Regions from separate parts of the Homo sapiens genome. Here region 1 is linked to region 2. The links come from fine-mapping of genetic effects on gene expression. A gene starts in region 2. The other region holds a variant in brackets. All regions are shown on one strand. Distances are between the middles of the regions.

Region 1 (15,866 bases), 200 kb after region 2:
GATTCATCTATGTTATAGTAGTATGTATCTTTATTCATTTTTATGGGCTAATAATACCACATTTTGTTGACCTATTTCTTCAGGTGATAAACATTTGGGGTGCTGCCACTTTTTGAGAAATTGTCAGACTGTTTTCCAAAGTGGTTATAGCATTTTACATTCCCAAGAGCAGTGTATAAAGACTCAGATTTCTACACTTCCCCCCTAGCCAACAATTGTTATCTGATTCTAGTCACCCTAGAGGGTATGAAATGGTAACTGTGGTTTTGATATGCATTTCCCCAATGGCTAACAATGTTGAGCATCAAGTCATATGCTTACTAGTCATCCTTACATTGTTTCTGGAGAAAAGTCTATTCAAATCTTTGGCTTATAGTAAGAATGATACAATGGACTTTGGGCAGAAGGGTGGGAGGGGGACAAGGGATAAAAGACTACAGATAGGGTGCAGTGTACACTGCTCAGGTGATGGGTGCACCAAAATCTCAGAAATCACCATTAAAGAACTTACTCATGTAACCAAACACCATCTGTACCCCAATAACCTATGGAAAAACAAACAAAAAGTGTATCTAAAGTGACCATTAAAAAAAAATCCTTTGCCTATTCTTAAATTGGGTTGTCTTTTTATGAATGAGTTGTAAGAGTCTTCTATATATTCTGAATACTAGCCCATTGTTAGATACATAATTTCCAAATATTTTTCTCCCATTATGTAGACTGACTTTTAAGTTTCTTTTTTTTTTTTCTTTTTGAGACGGAGCCTCACTCTGTCACCCAGGCTGGATTGCAGTGGTGTGATCTTGGCTCACTGCAACCTCTGCCTCCCGGGTTCATGCAATTCTCCTGCCTCAGCCTCCTGAGTAACTGGGATTACAGAAGCGCACCAACACACCCAGCTAATTTTTGTATTTTAGTAGAGATGGGGTTTCACCATGTTGGCCAGGCTGGTCTCAAACTCCTGACCTCAAGTGATCCACACACCTCTGCCCTCAGCCTCCTGAGTAGCTGGGATTACAGAAGCACACCAACGCACCCAGCTAATTTTTGTATTTTAGTAGAGACGGGGTTTCACCATGTTGGCCAGGCTGGTCTCAAACTCCTGACCTCAAGTGATCCACCCACCTCTGCTTCCCAAAGTGCTGGGATTACAGCCATGAGCCACTGCACCTAGCCAACTTTTAACTTTCTTGATGGTGTTCTTTGTCACACAAAAGTTTTAAATTTTTATGAAATCCAATTTATCTGTTTTTTTCTTCTACTGTTTATGCTTTTGGTATCATAACTAAGAATCCACTGGCAAATATGAGGGCAGTAAGATTCATCCTTATGTTTGTTTTTTTTAAGACTTTTATAGTTTTGACTCTTACATTTAGTCCTTTGATCTACTTTGGGTTAATTTTTTATTTGTGGTATGAGGTAAGCGTCCAACTTGAATCTTTTGATTGTGGCTATCCAGTTGTCCCAATACCACTTGTCAAAATAATTATTGTTTCCCCATTGTATGGTCTTGACACACCTGTCAAGTGCAATTGACTAGAGATTCATGGGTAGGTGTCAAATCTATTTTACCAGTCTATATGTCTATCCTGATGGGAGCACCACACTGTCTGCTTTGTAGTAAATTTTGAAATCCAAAGTATGAGTCATCCAACTTTGTTCTTCTTTTTTCAAGATTGTTTTGGCTCTTCTGGGTTTCTTGAAATTCCGTATGAATTTTAGAATCAGCTTTCAGTTTCCACAAAGAAGCCAGCTGAGATTCTGATAAGGACTGTGTTGAATCTGTACTTCAACTTGGGGAGTGCTGCCATCTTAACAATATTAAATCTTGAGATCCATGAATGTGGAATGTCTTACCATGTAGTTAGATCTTAAATTCCCTATGACAATACTTTATAGTTTTCAGAGTATAAATTTTGTACTCATTTTATTAAATTTATTCCTAAGTATTTTATTCTTGATGCTAATGTAAGTGAAATTTTTAATTTTTTTAATTTTTGATTTAAATATATATACTTTTGTGTAATACTGATTCAGACCTCTTCTCTCATGATCTATCCCCAGAAACATATTATGTCTTTTAATGAGAATAATATTAGTATCTCTTAAATGTCTACTAGGGAACTATTTTGGCTAAGATATTTTTAATTTTTATTATTATTTTGATTTGTTTCCTAGTCCTCAGCCTTGTTCCAGACAGCTGGAGCTTATTAACACAAGTGATATCATATGAAAGTTTTACTAAGACACAGCTAAAAATTTCAGCAAATATAATTTATAATTCTAATTCATATTACTGTTAACTTATACTGTATACAAATTTTGTGAAAAATTCCACATTTAGCCTTGACTCCTCAATACAAATATTTTAGAGTAGAATAAAACTATTGAAAAATATAGTTGTATCATCAATGTATAAATTTTCTGTGCAATCTATACAAAATAAAATTTATCCAGAAGCTACAGAGGAAGATACATTTCTTATAATAACCTCTATTTTCATGAAAATGTTTATTGTTATTTATTATTATAATAAAATCTAGATTTAACTGGAAGCCCAATTTTATGGTTAACAGTTCTAGTACTCCACTTGAAGAAATAGAATGTAGCCATTAAAATTATAATCATGAAAACCACATAGCAATGTAGTTAATAAAAAAGCCGAATCCCAAAGTATATCCAACATTTATATCAAGGTACACACATACCTGAACAAAGTCTTTGTTCTAATTTTTGTGATGACATTGCAATATTGCCTACCAAAAAAAATTGCCCAAACCAACAAAACAAAAAAGCTCCATAAATTAGAATTATCCTAAACCTGTCTATAGTCTAGATGTTCAAATCCAAAAAAACTGTTTATCATTTAGGTTAATCTATTTGCTGAAGTACTTTATAAAATAAAGAAGACTAACAAGTATAAAAAGTAGCATTACAACCCTCAAAAAGGACCCTACTCTGCTGAGATACTGTTAACATGTTAACTTCTAGTTTCACAGTACAAACAAACATTAATCCAAACTACCTGGAATAGTCCTTTAATCAAAAAACATTTAGAATTACTTAAATCACAAAGCATTTACTGTTTCAGCTTTTTGCCCTGATAAACTGGAAAAAAATCCTACTATTCTTTAGCTATGAACACCTCTGGATAAAAACAGATTGCTCCATGTTTTCTAAAAGCACAGAAAAACTACATTTTGGAGGAAAGGGGAGTGAGATCACTCTAGTTAATTTATCTTCTCCAAGAAGGGGAAAAAAAAAAAACGATGACTTGTAATTCCTCCTTTTTTCATGGCCTACACAATAAAGTCCAAAATCTCTATCATGATCAAGAACAGGCTTTGCTCACATCTCCGGCCTCACTTCCTAATACCAATTCCACTGAACGACCCCTGTGGATCTTAAGTCACCCATGCTTTCCAGCAGTGCTGAGGTTCTTTACATTTTCTTGTGTTTCACACCTCCATGCCTTTTGTATGGTGCGGCTTCCTCTTTTGAGAATGTTCTTTCACGTTCTCACCCCCGGACCCCAGCCCTTTCTCCTTACTGCCCAGCTCGAGCCTTAAAGGTTCAACTCAGAGTGTCTTATTTGTGCAGGTTTTCTGCCATTTGCCAATTCCAGCAGAGATATCACTCTTTCTAAGCTACATTGGAAGACTAACAAGTATAAAAAGTAGCATTACAACCCTCAAAAAGGACCCCACTCTGCTGATATTGTTAACATGTTATTGTTAACAATATTGTTAACATGTTATTGTTAACAATATTGTTAACAATATATTGTTAACTCATATTGTTAACATGTTAACTTCTAGTTTCACAGTACAAACATTAACCCAAACTACCTGGAATAGTCCTTTAATCAAAAAACACTTAGAATTATAAATATATATAAGCTAATTATCTTATATATTTCTTCTATTATTTTACTTACTGCATTGCAGTATAGTTACTAATTTCTAAGTATGAATCCCCAAATAATGATCTTGGCAAAAGCAGGGTCCATGTCTTATTTATGATCTTTGTACCCCCAGGGCCTAGCTAAATGCCTGCCAAAAAACCAGATGCTCAATACAATTTGTTAAATGAATAAATGGCTAGGTAATTATGGAAATCTACCCCTAGCCTTTTATTTGAAAGAGGCATAGTGTTTATAACATCCTCCACTTTGATTCTGCTCTAAATTTACTTTGCAATAGTATAATATTAAACTTCACAATAATTAATTTACCAATGTTTTTCCTCCTCACCCCCTGGAAAATCTCTGACGATTAATGTTGGGGATGATCCACCATAAAAACTAGATGGTGTCACTTAAAAGATCATTAGTTATCATTTTATACTTTATTTATATTTCTTTTTCTGGTAACATGTAATTATATTAAATGCTAATGACTATCATCTTTGTATTATAATTAGACATTTATTCTGATGTCTTTTGTAACTATTTTTTTCTGGCTTGTGGTATTTCAACTATACATTTAACCAGTAACCGGTAAGACTACATGGCATATAATAGAAATAGCTACTTGTGATGTCTTGGATCTGGGCTGTAGTTCCAATTCTGTGACAAGCTGGTTGTTCTCCCTAGACCAAGTCACTTAATTTTTAATTTCTCTCATCTTTAAAACGATGACAGTTGAACTAGACAATGCTAAAGTTCCTTATAAGTCTAAAACTTAACTACTTTTGTTGATCTGGACTTCACATATTAAGTTACTCAAAGTTACCATAAACTTTTGGGAAGCCTGGGACCATTCTTGTCTCATTCTAAACTTACAGTCATCTTTTTCATATTAATTTTTGCTAATCTAGTTGTCAAATCTAAAATTGTACAGTAGAACTGGTTTGTGAACCATGGTTAGGACTTTTGTTCAACTCTTTGCTTATTTAATATAATGCTGAATCTTGATTCTGTTAACCAGCAATACATATTAGCTGCCCCACCCAAAGCACTGTGTTGTGTACAGCTTTCATCAGTATGTTCTTCAAAGGTTTGATCCAATTCACTGTTGAAGTGGATAGGACCAAAATACAGAATTCTACTGTTTAGCATCAATGAGGGCAATGATCCATTAACTCATTCTCTTTTATGAAGATGGTTAAAGGAATGACAAATCTACTTAATTATCTTTTCAGTCACCGCACATTTCTATATGTTACCAGAATACACAAAAGTATGTCAAATAAATGCCCTGCTGAAATAAAAATGTATAACATAGACATCTAGTTTAACATGGCAGAAAAAAATTGAGACATTTAGCTCTATTTATTTCCAAAACCCCACTGAAAGGACAAAGGAAACAAGAAAGGACAAAGAGAACAGGTGAGGAAACAGTAGACTAGAGATGTCAACATTTTGGAAGATGAGAATTGAATAAACAAATGGTAAATGACTTAGCAAAACTAAGCCATCCAGCAGAAAAGGAATCTAAACACAGAATTACCTAATATCATGACAAATTTTTTAATTGTTGGACTTGAGGAAAAAAAATTAATGAAAGGTATATTGATAACTAAGAATTTTTTTTAAAAATCAAGTATCAGCAATTTTTAATTCTGAGGGAAGGAATGATGGAGTCATACTAAAAAGGAAATACAGTAACAGTGCTCTCATAGATTGGTTGTAAACAATACTTCCACAGCCATAAAGCTGTAAATGTAAAAAAATTATTGAACCAAAAAATATGACATAAGTATATTGGGAGAATATGGGCAAGGTATGTACGTCATTAGGGATGGCATCTGTGAGACAATCAATAACAACATCTAATATTGAAAAAATTAAGAAATAATATTTAGAAATAAGGAGGTATCTAGACGACATGGATAAAATAATTGAACCACTTGCCTATAGGATTCAGAACTTTAGAATCTATGTAACCTAGTTATTGGAATTAAAGATAAATTATAAAAAATATTACATGATACTTTATAAAGTTATATATATATATGTGTGTATGTGTGTGTGTGTTTGTGTGCATGTGTATATATATATATTTCCTCTTGTCCTAGTAACCCCAACATAGAAAAAAAAAATTGAATCAATCCAGCATCACCTGCTCTTTGAAAGCCCACAACAGCTGGCAGTAAGCTCCACTTTCTTTGACAAAAGCTTTGCCGCCTTCTGGAAAAGTAGGCCATAAGTTCAGACAGTTTTTTCCTTAGGATGCATGATGACATCATGTAAATACTGCTTCTGAATCACCCTCATAAACACATCTTTCTATAAACTTCTGTTGCCCATAACCATCCTACTTTCATAGTCCTCCTCAAAAATTGTGGCCAGACATGGTGGCTCATGCCTGTAATCCCAGGACTTTGGGAAGCCAAGGTGGGCAGATCACCTGATCTCAGGAGTTTGAGACCAGCCTGACCAACATGGCGAAACCCCATCTCCACTAAAAATACAAAAATTAGCCGGCCGTGGTGGTGCACGCCTGTAACCCCAGCCACTCCAGAGGCTGAGGCAAGGCACGAGAATCACTTGAACCCAGGAGATGAAGGCTGCAGCGAGCCGAGATTGCAACACTGCACTCCAGCCTGGGCGAACAAGTGAGACTCTGTATCAAAAAAAAAAAAAAAAAATTCCGGAATTGTTTGGCAAGCCTGGAAATTTTACCATTACATTCTTCTGGTTAACCATTCAAGATGTCAATGCATAATCTTGCAAGTATTGTATCTGTGACACTTCTAAAATTACCATATTAATGCAATGCAGACTGTGTGTCACCTAATGTGGTTAGAACTCTTCATTTCTACTTTATTTTGATGGATTATGCTATTGACAGAAATAATTCTTCTCCAAGATCTGTTAAAACTGCTTAACCTTAACAAATTGTGCTTAAGTTAAACTAGGGTGTAATTCCAAAAGAAATTTAAACTACGATACTACTACAAACAAGAATCTCATATACATTTGATATTCTTCCAAGAAAATTAAAATGCACAACAAAAACAAAATAGACAAATGGGACTTAATTAAACTAAAAAGCATCTGCACAGCAAAAGAAATAAGAGAGTGAACAGACAACCTGCTGAATGGGAGAAAATATTTGCAAACTGCATCTAACAGGAAACTAATATCCAATTACAAGGATATTATAGTATTTACAATACTAATTGTAAGAATTTACAAGGAACTTAAACAAACAATAACAAAAAACCGTATAACCTCATCTAAAAGTGAGCAAAGGACATGAACATTTTTCAAATGAAGACATACAAATGACTTCATTTGAATGACATTTGAATGACATACAAATGACCAAGAAGCATATGAAAAAACGCTCAAAAGAACTAATCAGCAGAGAGATGCAAATTAAAACCACAATAAGATATAATTTTATACCAGTCAGAATGGCTATTATTATTATTTTTTGTTTTGTTGGTTTTTCCAATAAGCCTTTTACACTCCTAAGAATGGCTATTATTAAAAAGTCAAAAAATAAAAGATGTTGGCATGGGTGCAGAGAAGAGAGAACACTTATACACTGTTGGCGGGAATGTAAATGAGTGCACCCTTTATGAAAAACAGTATGGAAGTTTCCCAAAAAACTAAAACCACCATTTGATCCTGCAATCTCACTAATGGGTACCTACCCAAAGGAAAAGAAATCATTACATCAAAAAGACACCTGCATATGTTATGTTTATCGCCAAAAATACGGAAACAAGTGTCCCTCATGGATGATTTTATATATATATATACACATACACATACACACACACATTTTACACACACACACACACACAGGCAGACAGGCAATGAACTACTATTCCGCCCTTAAAAAAATAATAAAATTTCACGTTTTTTGCAGCAACATGGATGGAACTGCAGGCCATTAACTTAAGTGAAACAACTCAGAAACAGAAAATCAAAAAATGCATGCTTTCACTTATAAGTGGGAGCTAAATAATGTGTACACATGGACACAGAGTGTGGAATAATAGACACTGAAGACTTAAAAGGGTGGGAAAGAGGTGAGAAATGAGAAATTATTTAATGGATACAATGCATATTATTCAGGTGATAGTTACACAAAAAAACCCAGACTTCACCATTAGGGAATATATCCACATAACAACAAAAAAATTAGAATGCATTTTATCTAAAGTTATAATTTAATTTAATTTAATTCAATTAATTTATTTTTTTTGAGACAGAGTCTCGTTCTTGTCACCCAGACTAGAGTGCAATGGCACGATCTCAGCTCACCTCAGCCTCCCGAGTAGCTGGGATTACAGGCGCCCACAACCATGCCTGGCTAATTTTTGTATTTTCAGTAGAGACGGGGTTTCACCACGTTGGCCAGGCTGGTCTCCAACTCCTGACCTCAGATGATCTGTCTGCTTTGGCCTCCCAAAGTGCTGAGATTACAGGCGTGAGCCACCATGCCCAGCCAAGACTCCTATTTTTAATCACTTAAGCAGAAGAATGACATGACTTCTAAAACTTGTTTTAGTTTGTTCCATCCACAGAACCTAAAAATTTGTAAATTTATAAGAAAACTTTAACAAGGTTACAAATATATATCAATGTTTCTGGTTAATTAGGTGTTTGGCTGATACACTTTCATTTGTTTAAAATACCATGATTTTCTAAGAAACTATTAACTTAAAAGCAAAAATTTGATTTTAAAATGGCTTCATTTTGAACTAGAGAAGAAATACCTTTAAATTATGTTACATTTTGGTCTGGGTGCAGTGGCTCACGCCTGTAATCCCAGCACTTTGGGAGGCTGAAGCGGGCAGATCACTTGAAGTCAGGAGTTTGAGACCAGCCTGGCCAACATGGTGAAACCCCATCTTTACTAAAAATACAAAAAATTAGCTGGGTGTGGTGGTGGGCACCTGTAATCCCAGCTACTCAGAAGCCTGAGGCAGGAGAATTGCTTGAATCCAGGAGGTGGAGGTTGCGGTGAGCTAAGATCATGCCATTGCACTCCAGCCTGGGCAACAAGAGTGAAACTCCATCTCAAAAATAAAATAAAATAAAATTATGTTTCATCTTAAGCCTGCATTCTCTCAGATGATTTTCAAAAATGTTTAAAGCAGCAGAATCATACCTTTCAAACAAAATCTTATTGAAAACTCAAATGTATAAAATGTATAAAACAGATAACATGGAGAGTTCTGCCTGCTCACTTTTCTTTTCTCATTGACTTGGAGTGGAAAATAATGGATCTAAGACTGTGGGATATAATATGAAATGAACTGCTTTAGATAGTATTCATCTGTAAATTGTTAATAATTACAACTGCCAAAAAAAGAAAAGCTAGTAGCAGAAGTTAAAAGTTCCAATAAAAGCAGGGCGCAGTGGCTCACGCCTGTAATCCCAGCACTTTGGGAGGCCGAGGCAGGTGGATCACAAGGTCAGGAGATCGAGGCCATCCTGGCTAACATGGTGAAACCTCGTCTCTACTAAAAATACACATATTAAAAAAAAAAATTAGTCAGGCGTGGTGGCAGGCGCCTGTAGTCCCAGCTAGTCGGGAGGCTTAGGCAGGAGAATGGTGTGAACCTGGGAGGCGGAGCTTGCAGTCAGCCAAGATCGAGCCACTGCACTCCAGCCTGGGCGACAGAGCGAGACTCCGTCACAAAAAAAAAAAAAAAAAGTTCCAATTTAAGTTCACAAGTGACAGTTCAGTAATTCAGACAAGGAAAGAACAATATGCAGAGCCTGTCATATAAATCCTACATCAATCACAGAAATAAGTGTCTTACTTTAGAAGCCATGCAGGAGTGTCACAGAACAAGCTGCTACCCTTAGCCAATTTATTTACCTTTGTCAGAAGTATCCTGTGTTAATGCATTTTTGCATATTTCATCAGACACCAAAGATGGAAAAGATCAAAAAGGTTAATTTGTTGTGCCTCCATTTTGTTGTATGCAAGTAAAAACATCCTCTCACTCTATCCTACTTCAAAAGGATAATATGAATATTATTAAAATCATACGCCTGTCTCTCTAGTCTAACAGGTCTCCCATAAACATACGTGCACCCCTATGTGGATGTGAAAGAAATATCACCAGCCAGGTGCAGTGGCCCATGCCTGTAATCCTAGCACTTTGGGAGGCCGAGGTGGCTGGATCACTAGCTTAGGAGATAGAGACCATCCTGGCCAACTTGGTGAAACCTGTCTCTATTAAAAAAATACAAAAAATAATTAGCCGGGCATGGTGGCGGGCACCTGTAATCCCAGCTACTCAGGAGGCTGAGGCAGGAGAACTGCTTGAACCTGGGAGGCAGAGGTTGCAGTGAGCCAATATCGCGCCACTGCACTCCAGCCTGGTGATAGAGCGAGACTCCATCTCATAAATAAATAAATAAATAAATATCATCTATCTACTTATTCTTGCAACTAAGAAAAACATCAGCAATTATTTGTACATTGAGGATGTATATTTTCTTAACTCTAGAGGAAAATAATTTTATTTTAATGTTTACATGATTCTTTCCAGGCCTGATTCAGCAGAAGGCTCAAAACTTTAAAAATGAGAAAGTTCTCACAAGATTCCCCATGATTTTCAGTTAGTATCAATCTATAAAATCTGTTTTCATCCCATCATGTCCTCCTACCTACACAATCACTATCCATCAATTTTCCCTTCTGTCTTAAATCTTCATAATTCTCCTTTCATTGAGGCAGTACACAAAAGACTCCACAGAAATAATCTTTCCATTGAAAATGAGCAAAGGCCACATAGAAATACTCTTTAAAAAAATAAGCAAATATGTGTAAGTATGTTTAACTTCACCTATGAACACATACACATTTAAGTAATACCATTTTCCCCTATCAGACTGTCATAGATGAAAAGATTCTTGATATTGTTTAAGATTTCTGAAGCACTGGAGGAAATAAGCACAAGGACACACATACACACAAAGTGAAACATCTTTTTGGAGGGCAAACTGACAATGTGTAA[C/T]AAAATTGCAAACGTACATATCCTTTGACACAAAAAGTACGCTTCCAGGATGTAGTCTAAGAAATTAAACCAACTTTAAATACAAGGAGATCGAGTAGACCAGTGCCAGTCCGTGGCCCTGTTAGGAACCAGGCTGCATGGCAGGAGGTGAGCAGTGGGTAAGCAAGCATTACCACCTGAGTGCCACCTGAAAGATCAGTGGCAGCATTAGATTCTCACAGGAGTGCAAACCCTATTACTGTGCATGTGAGGGATCTAGCCTACATCTAATACTTGATGATCTAGGGTGGAACAGTTTCATCCTGAAACCATCCTCCACCCCTGGTACATGGAAAAATTGTCTTCCATGAAATGGGTCCCTGGTGCCAAAAAAGTTGGGGACTGCAGGAGTACTGTATTAATTATAGTATTAAAATACAAAATAATTTTTGTGTATATTGATAATGGCTAAATTGAATACTATAGAAATATTTAAAATTGATGAGATATATTTAAGTTGAAACAAGATGTTCATGCTCTATTAAGCAATAAAAAGAGGCTTCTTTTTTTGAGACGGAGTCTCACTCTGTCTCCCAGGCTGGAGTGCAGTGGTGCAGTCTCAGCTCACTGCAACCTCCATCTCCCAGGTTCAACTGGTTCTCCTGTCTCAGCCTTCCGAGTAGCTGGGATTACAGGCGTCCGTCACCAAGCCCGGCTAATTCTTTGTATTTTTAGTAGAGATGGGGTTTCACCATGTTGGCCAGGCTGGTCTCAAACTCCTGATCTCAGGTGATCCGCCCACCTCGGCCTCTCAAAGGGCTGGGATTACAGGCATGAGGCACCACGCCCAGCCATAAGAGGAAGCTTAGAGCACAATTTGATTGCATTTCTAAAATATGTCCTAATACACATTTTTGAGCTGTAGAAAATTAAACCATCATTACTGGTTATCTCCACAGACACCTCTAAAGTAGAATTAAAAAAAAATTTTAAGCAATAAGTGTATTTTCTTTTTAAAAAAATTTGCTTTAATGAAATTGTTTTGCTTTGATTACTACTTTTTGCTGATTACAAAATACACATGGCTCATTTTAAAAAGATAGGGAAGGGCCAGGAGTGGTGGCTCATACCTGTAATCCCAGCACTTTGGGAGGCCAAGGCAGGCAGATCACCTGAGGTCAGGAGTTCAAGACCAGCCTGGCCAACATGGTGAAACCCCGTCTCTACAAAAAATACAAAAAATTAGCTGGGCGTTGTGGCAGGTGCCTGTAATCCCAGCTACTTGGGAGACTGAGGCAGGAGAATCGCTTGAACTCAGGAGGCGGAGGTTGCAGTGAGCCAAGATCGTGCCATTGCACTCCAGCCTGGACAACAAGAGTGAAACTTCGTCTCAAAAAAAAAAAAAAAAAAAAAAAGAGGGTCGGGGGGTGGCCAGGCGCGGTGGCTCATGCCTATAATCCCAGCACTTTGGGAGGCCGAGGTGGGTAGATCACAAGGTCAGGAGATCAAGACCATCCTGGCTAACATGGTGAAACCCCATCTCTAGTTTGGTGTGATTTCTTAATCCCTATCTCAAGCCTAACTTTCTAAGTCTCAGATATGCATTTCTGCATATGTGTCACCCAGTCCTCAAATATTCACAAACTCTATCTTACCTGCCTTCCCAACCACTCTCCCTAGTCCTATATTTACTATCTCAATTAACTCATTTATGCCTAGTGTTCCATTATTGGAACGCTAGGCTGGTGGGAGTTATTTATATACACTGCTCGAGGTCATCACCAAGGTCTGATTTTTCACAAAAAAATTTGCAGCTTCCGGCATAAATGGGTTTACATCTTCCTCATTTATAAGGTCTCTTCAAGCTGGCACATTTAGTCATCTTTGACTTCTTCCCATCAAATAATTAGTGACTAAATCCTGCCTAAAGTCTATGTCTAAAATTTCTAATTTACCCTGTCCTCTCTCCATCTCACTTCCATTTTCAGAGCTAAGACCAAAGGCCCTGCTACTTCTGACCTGGACAATTCAGCCTTTCTTGAGTACCCATTACATACCACACACAGTGAAAGGAATTAGAATATGAGGACTAAAAAGCAAAGTAATACCCTTACACCTATCTTGGGAGAGAGAAATGGAAGAATAAAGTACAACATGATAAGTATTACAATTAGAGCAAAATCTACAAGATGTCAACTTCTTTCCTATTTGATCTAATCTTACAATACAACCCGAATTCTCTTTCTGGAATATAAACTAGATTATGTCACTCTGTTGTAAAACTCCTGATGATTCGACCCCATTGCCTACAGGATAAAGTCCAAATGCTTTAATATATGCAAACACTTCACAATTTCGTCCCAACTTACCTAAAAGCTTCATTCTATTACTTTTCTTTCACTTCACATCCTATGACCCAGTCATGTATAACTAAATGCTGCTGTGATATGCTGGGCACTTGCACAGTATCTAGTGATTGTGTATCCTGCACAAGCTCTTCTTCCTTATGTCTACCAGCAGAAATCCTGTCCTATCATCAAATCATACCTCCTCTTTGAAGCCTTTATTAACCTTCTCTGCCAATGTAGTTTCCATACAATCTGGTTTTTTGTTTGTTTGAGACACGGTCTCACTCTGTCGCCCAGGCTGGAGTGCAGTGATGTGATCTTGGCTCATGGTAGCATCAGGCTCCCAGGCTCAAGCCATCCTCCCATCTCAGCCTCCCAAGTAGCTAGGACTACAGGTGCATACCACCACACCCAGCTAATTTTTGTATTTTTTGTAGAGACGAGGTTTTGCCACGTTGCTCATGTTGGTATTGAAATCCTAAGCTCAAGTCATCTGCCTGCCTTGGCCTCCCAAAGTGCTGGGATTACAGGCATAAGCCACTACACCCAGCCCCCAATCTGCTATATTATCACTTTGTATTGCAATTTGTTTTTCTCTGTCTACCACTAGACTGTGGTATTTGTAGAGACAAAAACTATATCTTCTTATTTCTATCCTTCCCAGAGTCTAGTATCAGTAAATATTCAAGAAATAGTTGTTAAATGTATGATGAAGGCTGGGTGCAGTGGCTCACGCCTGTAATCCTAGCACTTTGGGAGGCTGACGTGGGCAGATCACCTGAGGTCAGGAGTTCGAGACCAGCCTGGCCAACATGGTGAAACCCTGCCTCAACTAAAAATAAAAAATTAGCCGGGCATGGAGGCACACGCCTGTAATCCCAGCTACTTGGGAGGCTGAGACAGGAGAATCACTTGAACCCGGGAGGCAGAGGTTGCAGTGAGCCGAGATTGTGCCACTGCACTCTAGCCTGGGCAAAAAGAGCAAAACTCCATCTAAAAGAAAAAAAAAAAAGAAAACTGTATAATGGGGTGGAAACATTTGCAGAGAACCAAAATGCACTATCGTTACTTTTTTTTTTTTTTTTTTTTTTTTGCTGTTTGGAACCGATAGGTCTACTATCTACCACCACCCCCACATAAACCTGGAGCCCAAAGAAAGTATGCTTTATTTTCCCCCCTCTTCCTATTCATCAGCTTTTTATCCTTCCATCTCATAAATAACAGTAAACAATACAGAAAGAATCCCTGCCCTTTAAAGGGCTTATATTCAAGTAAGGAGAGGCAATTAATAGGGAAACATACATATGGTCATTTCAGATAGTGATGAATGCAATGAATAAAATAAAGCAGTTTGACGAGACAGGATGTGCTAGAGAAGAAACGTGCTATTTTAAATGAGAATGAGGAACAAGTGATAGAATGTTTCTCTGAGAAGGTAAGACATAAGCTGAGGCCTAAAGGATGAGAAACAACCCACTACGCAAAATTTTAGGGAAATAATTCTGCAAGCAGAAGGAATTGCAAGTGTAAAGGCTCTGAAGCAGAAATGCACACGGTTGGTCAGGTGTGGCGGCTCACATCTGTAATCCCAACACTTTGGAAGGCCAAGGCAGGAGAATCGCTTGAGGCCAGGAGTTCAAGACCAGCCTGCAAAACATCATCTCTACAAAACATTTAAAAATAAAAAAATTAGCTGGGCGTGTTCTTATGCACTAGCTATTAAGGAGGCTGAAGTAGGAGGATCGCTTGAGCCTGGGAGTTGGAGGCTGCGTGAGCTATGATCATGCCACTGCACTCCAGGGCGGGTAACAGAGCAAGACCCTGTCTCTCAAAAAAAAAAAAAGAATAAGAAGAAATGCACTTGGCTGTTTGACAGACTGTGTGTCTAGGAAAGGAAATTAGTTTAGAGAAGCAGAGCTTTGTAGGTGGTAGCCATGATGTAGGCTGACTGCACCTGCCTTGACTTTGGAATTTTGTAGTTTACAATCTTCTCCTCGCTAATATTAGAACAAGAAAATGACGGAATGGGGTATGCAGCCCACTCTATTGTCAGGAAGATGCCAGATAATTCTGAAAGTATCTTTTCTAGATACAAGGCCATAACAGTATGGTCCCAGGGCTAATGAAAACTTGATAAGCAGAGAAGAGTAAAAGCACATGAAAAGAAAGACAAGTTCTTCTGACTACAGGCAAGTCCAAATGAGAAACATCAAAATTATCTCAGATTCAAAGAGGAAACAAAACACAATACTACTCTGAAAATATATATGGGCTATAAATGTATGCTTTTAACTGAATGAATTTTTCCCTTCCCACGTAAACTTATAATACAAATCTAGACTTCAGTGATTAAACAGATTTCCACTTTTAATTCACCAAGGTTTTTCTTCACTTTCACAGAAATGAAACAATTGTCTGATGTTTTGAGAATTCAAAGATTTAGATGCTTTAGAAACTGCCTCTTAGCAATCATTTTATGGATGTTTATGTCATAATTATTTAATCCATCCAAGTAGTACTGTGATGTTACAGTCAATTTATGACATAAAGAAATATTCACAGAACTATTCGTTAAAGCAACTCTGTGATTGCTAGAAAGTAAAG
Region 2 (14,614 bases):
AAAAATTAGTTGGGCATGGTGGCACGCGCCTATGATCCCAGCTACTTGGAGGCCGAGGCACGAGAATCGCTTGAACCCAGGAGGCAGAGGTTGCAGTAAGCCAAGACAGCACCACTGCTTTCCAACCTGGGCAACAGAGCAAGACTCTGTCTCAAAAAAAAATAAAATAAAATAAAATAAAAATAAAAAATAAAAAGCCAATGGTCTTAGCTGAAATGCATAACGAAAGGGCTAAGACAAAACTTTCTACAGGAAGTGTACAGATCTGAAATATCAACTATAATCTAATGTTAGCACCCTTACAGAACAGTTTTTATTTCATGCACTCTCCTGATATTTGTCCACGTACACATTTTTCTATAACTGCAATCATGATGCAATTTGAACTTATTCAAGCTTTTTCATGTTTTTTTTCTTTTTTAAGAGATTGCTGGTTTCAAACTCCTAGGCTCCAGTGATCCTCTCGCCTCGGCCTCCCAAAGTGTTACAATTACAGGTGTGGGCCACCACGTCTGGCGAATATTTTCTTCTATAAAATTAGTTCCTTAACTCCTGCGTCAAACAGTATAAACTTCCAGATAGGGATTTACCAATATATACCATGAGGCTTCAAAATACTTACATAATCTAACCCAATTATTCCACGTATAGGAATTTATCCTGATGCAATAATGAGATATATAAAAATATTTATATAAGGCCAGGCACGGAGGCTCACCCCTCTAATTCCAGCACTTTGGGAGGCCAAGGCAGGCGGATCACCTGAGGTTGGGAGTTAGAGACCAGCCTGACCAACATAGAGAAACCACATCTCTATTAAAAATACAAAATTAGCCAGGTGTGGTGGTGCATGTCTGTAATCCCAGCTGCTTGGGAGGCTGAGGCAGGAGAATCGCTTGAACCTGGGAGGTGGAGGTTGTGGTGAACCAAGATCATGCCATTGCACTCCAGCCTGGGCAACAAGAGTGAAACTCCGTCTCAAAAAATAAATAAATAAAAATATTTATATATAAAGTTGTTCGGTCAGGCGCGGTGGCTCACACCTGTAATCCCAGCACTTTGGTAGGCCAAAGAGGGCAGATCACTTGAGGTCACAAGTTCGAGACCAGCCTGGCCAACATGGTGAAACCCCGTCTCTACTAAAAATACAAAAATTAGCTGGGCTTGGTGGAGGATGCCTGTAATCCTAGCTACTCGGGAGGCTGAAGCGGAGAATCACTTGAACCTGGGAGGTGGAAGCTCCAGTGGCCACTACACTCCAGCCTGGCCAATAAAGTGAGACTCTGTCTCAAAAAATAAAATAAAATAAAATAAAATAAAATAAAATAAAATAAAGTTGCTCATCACAGTATTATTTATAATTGCAAAAGGCTAGAAGTAGTCCAAATGGTTACAAAACTTCTGATGTACCAATATGATTAGCATGTAACCTATAACTATATAATTAAAGAATATTTAATGATGGCCAGGTATGGTGGCTCATGCCTGTAATCCCAGCACTTGGGGAGGCTGAGGCATGAGCCCAGGAATTTGAGACCAGCCTGGGCAACATGGCAAAACTAGCCAGGCATAGTGGCACCTGCCTGAAGTTCTAACTTTTCAGGAGACTGAGGTGGGAGGATCACTTGAGCCCGGGAGGTGGAGGCTGCCTGCAGTGAGCCGAGATCGTGTCATTGCATTCCAGCCTGGGTGACAGAGTGAGACCCTGTCTCAACAACAAAAAAAATTTAAAAAAAGAAATATTTAATGAGAAAAATAATTCATGTATTTCATGCTATTACTTAACTCTTACGACTCTATAGATATCCTTATTATTCCTGTTTTACAGATAAGGAAACTGGGTCTTGGAAAGGTTAAGTAACTTGCCGAAGCCCACAATACGGTACAGCCAATAGACCTGGAATTTTAGCCCAGAGCATATATTCTTTTTTTTTTTTGAGACGGAGTCTCGCACTGTAGCCTGGGCTGGAGTGCAGTGGCGTGACCTTCGCTCACTGCAACCTCCGCCTCCCGGGTTCAAGCGATTCTCCTGCCTCAGCCTCCCACGTAGCTGGGATTACAGGCGCCCGCCACCACGCCCAGCTAATTTTTTGCATTTTTGGTAGAGACAGGGTTTCACTACGTTGGCCAGGCTGGTCTCAAACTCCTGACCTCATGATCTGCCCGCCTCGGCCTCCCAAAGTGCTGGGATTACAAGAGTGAGCCACTGCACCCAGTGACATTCTTTCATAATAGCTGGTTTTTTTCTTTATGTTTTTGTGGGGTATCAAAATTACTGCCAATAAACATGTTACTCATATAATTTAAATAAATGTTAATTTTAAAAATGAATTTGCTGGCTGGGAGTGGTGGCTCACACCTGTAATCCCAGCACTTTGGGAGGCCGAGGTGGGCAGATCACCTGATATTGGAAGTTCGAGACCAGCCTGGCCAACATAGTGAAACCCCATCTCTACTAAAAATACAAAAAAAATTAGCCAGGCATGGTGGCGGGCGCCTGTAATTGCAGCTACTTGGGAGGCTGAGGCAAGAGAATCGCTTGAACCTGGCAGGCGGAGGTTGCAGTAAGCCAAGATTGCACCATTGCGCTCCAGCCTGGGTGACAAGAGTTAAACTCCAGCTCAAAAAATAAATAAATAAATAAATTTGCTATAGGTTCTTGAACTCTCCATTTAAGAACTCTTTCTTATATGTCAAAATATTTTAAGACACCCCCTCCACAACACCCACAGCAGTACTTTCAGTATCTGTTCGTTCACAAATTGTCCAATGACCAAAAATAACCATGCATTCAGCATTCAGTAATGCTTTTTCTAGCAATGGGATTTTTTTTTTTTTTTTTGAGACAGAGTCTTACTCTGTTGCTTAGGCTGGAGTGCAGTGGCGCAATCTCAGCTCACTGCAACCTCCACCTCCCATGTTCAAGCGATTCTCCTGCCTCAGCCTCCCGAGTAGCCGGGATTACAGGTGCGTGCCACCATGCCCAGCTAATTTTTGTATTTTTAGTAGAGATGGGGTTTCACCATGTTGGCCAGGCTGGTCTTGAACTTCTGACCTCAAGTGATCCACTGCCTTGGCCTCCCAAAGTGCTGGGATTACAGGTGTGAGCCGCCATGCCAATGGGAATTTTTTTTTTTTGAGATGAAGTTTTTGCTCTTGTTGCCCAGGTTGGTGTGCAATGGCATGATCTCAGCTCACTGCAACCTCTGCCTCCCAGGTTCAAGTAATTCTCCTGCCTCAGCCTCTCAAGTAGCTGGGATTACAGGTGTGTGCCACCATGCCTTGCTAATTTTGCTTTTTTTTTTTTTTTTTTTTTTGGGAGATAAGAGTCTCGCTCTGATGCCCAGGCTGGAGTGCAGTGGTGCAATCTCGGCTCACTGCAAACTCCGCTTCCCGGGTTCACGCCATTCTCCTGCCTCAGCCTCCTGAGTAGCTGGGACTACAGGCACCCGTCACCATGCCTGGCTAATTTTTTATAGTTTTAGTAGAGACAGGGTTTCACCATGTTACCCAGGATGGTCTCCATCTCCTGACCTCGTGATCTGCCCGCCTCGGCCACCTAAAGTGCTGGGATTACAGGCGTAAGCCACCGCGCCCGGCCTAATTTTGTATTTTTTTTAGTGGAGATGGGGTTTCACCATGTTGGTCAGGCTTGTCTCAAACTCCTGACCTCAAGTGATCTACCCACCTTGGCCTCCCAAAGTGCTGGGATTACAGGTGTGAGCCACCACGCCCGGTCACCAATGGGATTTTAATAACCACAATAATACCTATGGATTCACAGACCTCCAGTCCCTCAAGATGTGGCCTATATGGTGGAAACCACCAGCAGAGGGAACCCAGGTCAACCAGTGAGAAAAGACAGAAATCACAATAGTGGAAATAATAACGAAATAGCGACCTTTTCAATCTTTTTTATAAACTTGTTGCTTTTTAATAGGTGAGATAGTCCCATGGTTTGAAAATGTAAAAACATAAAAAGGTATAAAGTCTCCCTCCCACCCTTTCCCCCATCTGCCCAGCTCCCACCACCACTATTACCCGCTAACACCCTTATAGCTATTCATTTATGTATTAATATTATTCAGGCATATGCAATCAAATACAAATGTATGTTTTTGCTTTTTTTACACAAATGATAGCAAAATGATACTTGCTTTTATTTCTTAACAGTATGTCATAGAGATCTCTCCATATCAGTACATGCAGAGCTTCTTCATTCTTTTTTATAGCTGCATAGTATTCCACTGTTTATATTCACCATCAATGATTATTTAATCAATCCCCTACTCATGAACATTTGGTTTGAAATAAAATCCCTTTATAACAAAGCATATGTTCAAATACATTTATTGTACCTGCTAACAAATCCAAAATACTGGGAATCCAACCTCCTACCAGGACTTCTACCCATACTATGTAGAAACCAGAAGAGTCACTGAAAGGAGATGGTGATGGAAGCAATGCTAGTCTGACACCACCCACTCCAACCTCCAGAACTGAGGAAAAGCACTGGCCCACATGCACTCTCCATTAATTGTGGGCATATATACCTGGGAGGGGCAGCCTGACATAACTAAAGGAGAAGTGGAGTCAGGAGACCTGGGTATGAGCCTTAGTTTCACCATTTCCTGGCTACCTGATTCTGTGCAAGTCACTTAAACTCTCTGAGCTTCAGGTTCCTCATCTGCAAAATGAAGATAATAATATTTTAACTCAACAAGCTAATTGTGAGGACTACAGAAGATGAATACACGAACATACTCTGTAAACCATAAAGTGTAATACATACACTGTATGGTTTTTCAACAATGATGCAAATTGTTATTATGGGTCAATATCAGCAAGAATAACTTAGAATTTATATAAATATACATGTATGTACAGAAAAACTTACCAATAAGAGTCGCCAAAGAGCAATGAGGTACTGTTGGCGTGAACCTGATAATAACCAGATATTCTTCTTCATTTATCTCCTGAACTTCCACACAACTTTCCGAGACCACTTCCAGTTCTTCTAAAGTATTGGGCTTTTCTGGGTCCCGGATAGTTCTAATCAAATCTAAAGAATCATCAGAGATAAGATATTCTATTAAAACATGACTATTCTAAATAAAGATGATTTTGCCAGGCCTAATTTAAGCACTGACTTCTCTTACGTTTAAGCAAATAGTACAGCAACTCCCAGGTTTCTGACAGAAATTTTCACTACTGGTTTCCTCTTGAGAAAACTGTTTTCTTGGATTATTATAAGACCATATCCAGTTTCTCCAATCGGACATTGCAGAGAAAATATAATAAGAATGGAAACAGTGTCATGGAAGCTCAAGAGGAAGAAATAACTTTCAGCTTGAAAGAATGTGGTTATCAGGCTTTATAGGAGCGGAATCTGAATCAAGCCTTGAAAAATAGGTAACATTTCAATATTTGACATTTAAAGTGAAGGAAAGTAGCTGGGCATGGTGGCTCACACCTGTAAACCAACCACTTTGAGAGGCAAAGGCGGGAGGATCACTTGAGCTCAGAAGTTCGAGACCAGCCTCAGCAACATAATGAGACCCCCGTCTCTACAAAAAATACACACAAAAATTAGCCGGGTGTAGTGGTGCAGGCCTGTGGTCCCAGCCACTCAGGAGGATCGCTTGAGCCCAGGAGGCAGAGGTTGAGAGCGGAGATCGTGTCACCGCACTCTAGGCTGGGCAACAAAGCGAGACCCTGTCTCAAAAAAAAAAAAAAAGTGAAGGAAAGTAAAGTAAAGAAGAAGAACCCTAGTTTGCCTGGAAGCAGGCATAAGTGAAAGGTGTTTTAGAGTATGAGATTTGGGTCTGACCATCAAGTGTCTTTTACAGCCAGCTACCGGCAATAGCAAGTCCTCAAGAGGTTTGAGACAAGTGACATGGACAACACTGTGCTGTCAGCTGGTAACTCATCATCAGCTGCTAGACTCAGACTAAAAAGCAGAACCAATGATACCAGCTAAAAACACCAGGCCTAAAATAGTATCTAGGACAACACTGGCAGAACTAAAAGAAACAGAACGAGGAAGAAATTTGGGTGGGGCATAGAGCAAATGAGTTCAATTTCACACAGAATGATTTTGAGGTGCTTAAGGGGTTATCCAATGGAGTTTTCTAGCAAGTGGTAAACTGTAGCATAGAGTTTAAAACAGCATCAAAGCTAGAGTGGTTGTCAAACCCACAGGATTCACAAAGAATAAGTAGAACCTTGGCTGAACATTGGAATTACCAAGAATGTTTCAAAACAAACAACAAGGCCGGGCGCGTGGTTCAGGCCTATAATCCTAGCACTTTGGGAGGCTGAGGCGGGTGGATCGCCTGAGGTCAAGAGTTCGAGACCAGCCTGGTGAACATGGTAAAACCTCGTCTCTACTAAAAATACAAAAATTACCCAGGCGTGGTGCCGGGCGCCTGTAATCCCAGCTACTTAGGAGACTGAGGCAGGAGAATCACTTGAAACCAGAAGGCAGAGGTTGCAGTGAGCCGAGATCCCGCCATTGCATTCCAACCTGGGCAACAGAGCAAAAACTCCGTCTCAAAAACAAAAACAAACAAACAAAAAAACCTGATGCCTGGGCCCCAATTCCAGAGACTCTGATTTAATTGGTTTGCTGGCCTTTGAGTTTTAAAAATTTCTCGGGTTGTTCTTAGGTACAACCCAGTATGAGAATCAGTGGTATAAAGAAAAAAGAGACCCAACAGATCCATGCGAAGCACCTAACTTAGGGATCAGAATGAGAAACAAAAGCAAAAAGAACTAGAGGAGGGAAGAGAGGGATGGTTAATAACATTAAATGCTGCAGAAAAATTCAGGCTCATGAGAGCTAAAACAGGTCTTTCATTTGTCACCCCAGCCAGCTGTAAGAAAGCAGTTTCAGTAGAGAGTGCGTGCGCTGAAGCCAGCTTGCAAAAGGGGAAGCAAGTAGGAACTGAAAATGTCTTCCTAGGGCCTTAGCTGGGAAGGGAGGGACATGAAAAGGACAATGACTTTATAAGGAAGCTAGAACAATGACAAGGATAAGGGCAACTTTGAGGAGAGAAATTGAAAATATAAGTTGGGAGGAGCGGAGACTGGTAAAATAAGCAGAAGGGAGTGGGATCAAATATTTAGAAGTCTCAGTTGGCCTTGGAGAAGACAAGATTTCTTTCTTACTCTGAGGCTGGAGAAAGAGATGAAGGAAAGGAGAACAATAAAGAGAAATGGTGAGGTAGAAAGGAAAGAAGCAGAATTTTACATAGAATGTGCTTGAGGTTCTCAAATCTGAAGTTTTGTTTTATTATTTATCACACAAAATTATATGTAATCAGAAATGCAACTGGGAAAAACAAGAACAAATTCTATTTTCTCTTTAATTTGCTCCTGGGCTTGTCACTTGATTAGAAACAGAATTTTGCCAAACATGACGGCTCATGCCTGTAATCCCAGCACTTTGGGAGGCTGAGGCAAGTGGATCACCCACCTGAGTTCAGGAGTTCAAGACCAGCCTGGCCAACATGGCAAAAACCCGTCTCTACTAAAAATACAAAAATGAGCCGGGTGTGGTGGCATGTGCCTGTAATCACAGCTACTCAGGAGGCTGAGGTAGGAGAATCACTTGAACCCAGGAGGCTGAGGCTGCAGTGGGCCAAAATTGTGTCACTGCACTCTAGCCTGGGTGACAGAAGAGACTCTGTCTCAAAAAAAAAAAAAAAAGAAAGAAAGAAGCAGAATTGGAAAACATAGGCAAGAAAGTCGACAAAGCTTCTCTTTCACAGAGCTGTGTTATCATGGGACTTAGGGAAACAGAGTTTTCTGAAAAGGAATTTTCTGCCTCTCATACTAGGCTTTCTCCCCATAAGGCTCATTTAATTGTATTATATTCTTTATATGCCACTAAACCCTGAAATTAAATATCATCCTTATTAAATTTCTCTAGTTTTCTAGTTTCTAGATTTGAGAGGTTTGGCTTTACTTCTTTAAAAAGAAAGAAGGGCCGGGTGTGGTGGCTCATGCCTGTAATCCCAGCCTTTGGGAGGCCGAGACAGGCAAATCACTTGAGCTCAGGAGTCCAAGACCAGCCTGGGTAACATAGCAAAACCTCATCTCTACAAAAAAATACAAAAATTAGCTGGGCATGGTGGTGCATGCCTATGGTCCCAGTCAGTCAGGAGGCTGAGGTGGGAGGATGGCTTGAGCCCTGGAGGTGGATGGAGGCTGCAGTGAGCAGTGATTGCACCACTGCACTCCAGCCTGATTACCAGAGTGAGACCCTGTCTCAAAAAAAAAAAAAAAAAAAAAAAAATTTAAAAGAAAGTTCTCCTCATATTACTCCCCACACTAACATTCTTCCACAGCACTGCACTATTAAAATTCTTCATTTATATTTAAAACCTTCAGTATCCAACTGCATCCCACTACCTAGAACAATGTTCAACCACATCTTCACATTTAACCACAAACCCTATCCTATAGCCCCATCTATCTGTCATTTCCTATCTTCTTACCTCCATGCTTTTAAGTTTCCTCTTAGTATGCCCTCTGACCCTCTACATATCTAGATCCTAATTATTCTTTGAGGCCCAACTCAAGTGGCTCCTTCTCTTTATTTCAAAGTCTTTCTAGATCCCCTCAGTCAGAGACTAGTATCTCCCTTTCTCTGAATTTCTGTATCTCTTATTCAGTCTACAGCCTTCTATTACATACTCTATTTTTGCATATATGGGTTTCCTTCAATATCAGTTTGAAGACTAGAGTCACTCTCTTCCAAAGTTGTATCTCCAGTGCCCTACCATCCCTAGATTATGTGGACAGAGATCTGGCAGGACAGGGATGTGGTCTGCTTTGTGGAGATCATTTTACTCACAATTATCATCTGCCTGGAGGCTGATTAGGTAAGTCCTGCCTCTAGTAAGAGAGGTCAACCAAATTAGCTCCCAGAGTATTTCCTAACCCTGGCTTCCTTCTACTGGCCTATAATCCTTACTTGAATTATATTTGTATTCTATGGTTAGATCTCTCAATATTATATCCAGTCTTTTCGGTTTTCAAAAACAATACAACATAATTAAAAAAACAAACAAACAAAAAGTTGTAAGGCAATTGTGAAGTGGTGGAAAGTGCATTACGGTTAGAACCAGTAGGCACAGCCTTTGCTTTTTGGCTCTGTTCCTTACTGGCAGTGTGACCTCCAGGTAGTTCTTTAACCTTTGTTTCCTCATTTGTACAATAAAGATGGCCCCAAGGGTTAAACAGAAAATATTTAATATGCAACATGGAAGAGTGTGTATGTGTGTGTGTGCGTTATGTGTGTGTACACAAGGCCTTGCTACAAGAAGCCAATCTCGTTCTCTTCTTTCGGGGACCTCTGCTTACTGACTTTGCCGGATAGAGTGGCTGTGACCTTGGGCCAGTCCCCAACTCGACTGTCACCCACAAGCGCCCTCAGCGGTAGCAAGAGTGCGTGTCCAGGAGCTAGAGAACGAGGCTCTAGTAGTGCAATCAGGCCAGCTTTGCTTCCTAACCAGGCACCCTAGACTTGTGGTCTCCCCACAAGTCTTGGAATGGTTACTAAGACGTAGGCCACACGTGGAGAATGAAGCTTTTAAGACCTCTGGGTTCGGCTTGCCCCAGGTTTACGAAGAGCCCAGTTCCCAGAAAGACCCACACCCCCCACGTGACTTAGGACCCCGAAGAAAGCGCCTGCTACGCCCCGGACAAGATCTGGCCAAAAACAAACAAACAAACAAACAAAAAAAAAGGTCTCCCCTCCCAGCCCTCAGGTGAGGCCATCATCCCCGCACCCCTCAGCTCCGGCCTGCACCTATAACGCCAAATGCTGTGCTGGGTAAAATTAATTACCATAAACTTCTAGCGCTTTCTCTTCCATGATCCGGGGCTGCCGGGCAGCTCCCGGCTCAGAGAGGCCGGAGAGCCACAGGACTCTGCTCAGCGTCCAGGAGAGCAGCCCGGACACCCGCTGCATCTTCACGCTCAGCCATCCCTGGCGACTGTCCCAATCGCGCCACCGTCTCTCAGCAGCCTCGGGATTGATCAACTTCCTGGTCTTCAAATGGGCCGAGACAAGCCTAAAGGTTCAGGAGAGCAGAGAAAAGGCGGGGCCAGACGGAGTAGCTCGAAGGACCTAGGGAAGGGGCCTCAAGGACTACAAGTTCCAGCGTGCTTTGCTCGATTTCGGCGGGACAAAAACAATCTTCGCGGCTCGTCAGCACATTGCATGCTGGGATGCGTGAGCTATTTTCTTCGGAAGGCAGCGAATTGTATTCTGGGACTTGTAGTGTCCGCCTGGTAGAAGTGGATGTAACGGTCTGTTAACCGCGACTGACTCACTCAGTATCCGTGATAAGTTAAAGATGAATCCTGAAGGGGTAGGGGAAAGGAGATCTTGAGTTCTCCAGCACGGAGACTCTTTACAATTATTTCTCCGCGGGATCCGCTGACAGCCAACGTCTTTCTTACTTCCTGATCGGACAGGAAGTAGGTTTCAGTTGCTGTGAAAAGGGATGTCATGGGAAGCCAGTGAGGTAGTCAGGTATGGCATGGGGAGGGCTTTTTGGCTTTCTCGTCTCCTAAGGGACTCAGTCCAGCACAGCTTCCCACCTTTGAACGAATATTTCTGCTAATGGCCTCCAAAGACAACTTAGAACATAAGTTTTCCCGTGTCTAATGTGTACAGTGGTGACATAATGGAGATCGCCATCCTTAAAAGTGTATCTTGGCCGGGCGCGATGGCTCACGCCTATAATCCCAGCACTTTGGGAGGCCGAGGCGGGCGGATCACCTGAGGTCAGGAGTTCGAGACCAGCCTGGCCAACATGGGCAAACCCCGTCTCTACTAAAAAATACAAAAATTAGCTGGGCGTGGTGGCAGGGGCCTTAATCCCAGCTACTTGGGAGGCAGAGGCAGGAGAATCGTTTGAACTCAGGAGGCAGAGGTTGCAGTGAACCAAGATCGAGCCATTGCACTCAAGCCTGGGGGAGAAGAGCGAGACTTCCCTCAAAAAAAAAAAAAAAAAAAAAAGTGTATCTTAAGCCCTCTGGTGTTCGTGGGTGTGATGGATGCCAGTAACAAAATCGATTTTATTTTATCCATCCATCCCTCCGATCAAATTTGTAGGTACTAATTTGCCATAGGTGATCCATAGGCATGGAAGATACAAAGATAAAACGCTGCCCCCGCCTTCAAACAGCTCACATGACCTGTGAGGGAGTCCATCCCTGAATTTGCAGTTACAACCAAACTAACTAAACCTCTTGTCAAAGTTGGTGACAAATGCCATTTCTATTGAGAAGATAGGATTATCTTGCAGAATTGTCCCATGCTAACATGCCCATTTATCTTTAAACTCCAGTCTTGTTTGTCTAGTTAATGTAGGCCTTAGGATCACCAGACAATGAATTGCTTAGGTCCCAAGGAAATTTTGGTCAGGGTTCAATAATTTCCCTGCCGTCTATTCCACTCCACTTACTCCACAGCAATTGAGAGGATAATCCTAACATTTTTCCAGCCAAATCTAGGACACTGAGGCCTCACTTCATCTGTGAGGCCTCCCTACTTCTCCAAGCAGAATTGATTATCTCTTTCCCTGTGCTCCCACAGGGCACCATAGCATTGAACATGTCGAACTGTCGATTAAATACCTGATTTCTGTATCTGAAACTCACAGCAAGGTGCCAGGCATACAGTAGATGCTCAGTATCTGTATTTCTTAATGAATTAACTGAATGTTGCTCAAGGAATAAGTGGTGAAGCTTTCTTCTAGTCTTGTTCAGATACCTCAATCGAAATATTTATTGACTCTCTGTGAGGGCATTGTGCTTGGCATGGGTAGATGGCATGTAGAGGTTTTCAAACATTTTAGTGACACTCCTTCATTCAGACGAACTCTTAGAAGCCTGTTGGATAAAGCTATCCAGAGCACAAAGGGCCCTAGAAACCTGAGCAGCCCCTAACTCCTACTTTTCTGCCCCTTTGGCCCCACTCGTTAATATCTCAGCATCGCGAACCAGGCCTCGGATTTGCTGCGCAGCCTCAGCTGGCCGGGTGCCGCCCCGCCCCCAGCGCCTAAGCCCCGCCCCTAGGTCTCCGCCCCTCGGATCCCACGGGGTCCCTTGCGGCCCTCCCACTCCTCGCACCGTTGGATCGCTTTGCTCACGGCGCTATCTCTCGATAAAGTTGTTGTTGCGGCTTCCGCCGCGGGTGGAAGAAGATGGCGTCGGGTGGTGGTGGCTGTAGCGCTTCGGAGAGACTGCCTCCGCCCTTCCCCGGCCTGGAGCCGGAGTCCGAGGGGGCGGCCGGGGGATCAGAACCCGAGGCTGGGGACAGCGACACCGAGGGGGAGGACATTTTCACCGGCGCCGCGGTGGTCGTGAGTTTGCACCCCTCGGGGTAGCAGGCGGGAGGGCACCCCGAAAGGGAAGAGAGGCTAAGCGAGAATCGGGGAGGTTGGGCAGAGTGGGCCCGGTGAGACCTTGCCTCGGTGTCAGCAGTCCGGGCCCCGGGGACCCTGGATGTGCTCGAAGCGGTAGAGCTTGGCTTCCCGGCCCCCAGGCGGGAAGAGTAAAGAATGAGGGTTGTGGTGCCTTCGTCGGCTAGCTCCCTAACAGCCGAGAACCGCCGACGCCGTCCTTTGACCCTGCAGTGTGGTGACACTCCACGGATCCACGGGGTTATTTTGCAGGTCGTGTCCTGCCAAGGCAGATTCAGTAGGACGGAATAAGCGAATGGGATGCAGACCTTTCCCCCGTCTTACTGCTTCTAAGATGAATAGCGTTATGTGGACTAGCCTGGGGTGGTGACCCGCCCACCAGTTCTTTCTTTAGCCCAGCATTTACCGATAATAACCAAAGGCCCTTTCTGGATCTTAGTTTACAAAAGTTATGTTGATTCTTCTGATCTCTAGGAAAATCAGGCCAGAGGCTGGTGGACAGAAGGCACTGCCAGATAAATCACTACATAGATCAGAAAGCTTTCTCCTTTTTAAAGGGATGTGTTCAAGTGCCCACGTACCTCACTGGGAGCAAATCTGAAATGTGATGAGGAAATGGTGTTTCCCGTAATGTTACCGGTAGGAGGCCCTTGAGTGTAGGTTGTCGAGGTTCTTGGCATTTTGAACAAATAATTGGACAAAACGCACAAAATAACAAAGGAATGAAACACAAACGAAGCAGCGAAAGCAGGAATTTATTAAAGCGAGAAAGCACCCCACAGGGTGTGAGTGGGCCGGAGCAAGGGGCTCAAGAGCCCACTTACAAAGTTTTCTGGATTTTAAGTGCTCCTTTTATGGTTCCTATGGGTTACCCCTTATCTGGATGAAGGATTTGGTCTGTGGCTAAAGGCCGAGGTGAATTGGCGTCCTGTGCAGATGAACGGATGGTCCCTGCTTGGCCTGCGGCCAGTCTAAGGCACTCTCCCTTTCCATGTGAGACGTGGTGGATGGGGAGGGTTGCAGGGATAGTAGCCTTTGATCCTTTGCCACTCGGGCGTGGGCAGATGGGTTTTTTCCTTTTGGTTTAGCTTTAGGAAGTTGGCCTTAATTGGCCTTAGGTTCCCTGCCCCCAAACCCAGGGGGTTCCTTTTGGGAATTCAGCTTTGGGAAGTCAGCACGAATTGGCCTTAGATTCCTTGCCCCCAGACCTTGGTGTTTTCTCTTTTAGAAAGTTAACGTAAGTTGACCTCAGATTCCCTGCCCCCAAACCTTGGTGTTTTTCCTTGATTCAGCATGAATTGCCCTTAAGTTCCCTGCCTCCAGACCCTATTCTCCTGCCTCAGTAATAAATATCCGGGTCTCTAATAAGAGTTAGGTATTAGAAAAAAATAATCTTTGTAATGTGGAAATCAGTAATCAGTTATGGAACCAGTAGAGATGTTTTGGGCTATTTTATGAGAATATTTACTCATACCACTTGGTATAGGTTGTTCCAGGCTGTAAAATTCAATGCTGGGTCTGTGAATTTATCTGTTTGGCATAATGCTTCTCTTCACAGTAGCTACTCAGTGTGTAACCAACTAAATAAAACAGCTATAAATTCTTTATGCAACATGTGGTCTGAAAAAGTTTGAGGCTTTCCTCATTTGTGTCAGATTTTCCCTGTCCTGTATTCAGAAATTGAGTCCATAATCTCAGCTCATAAGGTGCTTGATAATTCTAATATAACAACTAAAACTGTCAAATGAAGTCTCTTATTCTGAGAAATAATAAGTCTTTGTGACTGTCATAAAACAGGAAACAATTTTTGTTTGTTTTTAGAGACATAGTCTCCCTGTGTTGCCCAGGCTTGTCTTGAACTTCTGGGCTCAATGGATCCTCCCTTCCTCCTAAGTAGCTGGGATTGCAGGTGCATGCCTGAGAAATAATAATTCTTGCCGCTAATTTAGTCCTTCTGTATGTTATTTTAAGTAAGTATTTAGTCTGTTCCTTTAGTAATTCTTCTATAAGTCATGGAAGACAGCTACTGTTGGTAACTGCTGGAATGATGTGCAGACTGAGAATATGAAAACAGAAACTCTGACACTGAAAGTGATTGGTCACATAGGCAAATGTTGATTTATTTTCCAAAAAGGAACCTGGAAGAGTGAGGAGTTATTTTCTAGAGTTAA

What was found. PIP is the estimated chance that this variant, and not a neighbour inherited with it, causes the effect.
Region 1: its variant is fine-mapped to the expression of CIAO2A in whole blood (TOPMed, PIP above 0.99).

The regions. Positions count from the first base shown.
Region 1 is chr15:64,282,607-64,298,472 of GRCh38, forward strand. The region is part of intron 2 of CSNK1G1 (casein kinase 1 gamma 1); the gene reads right to left. Among named protein-coding and RNA genes, the nearest start is that of CSNK1G1, 66 kb to the right of the region's middle. The variant C/T (reference allele first, on the strand shown) is at 10,936.
Region 2 is chr15:64,083,790-64,098,403 of GRCh38, forward strand. CIAO2A (cytosolic iron-sulfur assembly component 2A) reads right to left here and starts at 10,049. Exons shown (of 5, transcript NM_032231.7): 1 at 9,856-10,049; 2 at 4,898-5,062. The coding sequence starts at 9,979. It overlaps SNX1 (sorting nexin 1), which reads left to right and starts at 12,193. Exons shown (of 15, transcript NM_003099.5): 1 at 12,193-12,383. The coding sequence starts at 12,225. RefSeq lists enhancers at 9,124-9,686, 9,322-9,371, 9,732-10,461, 12,177-12,296, 12,437-12,516 and 2 more.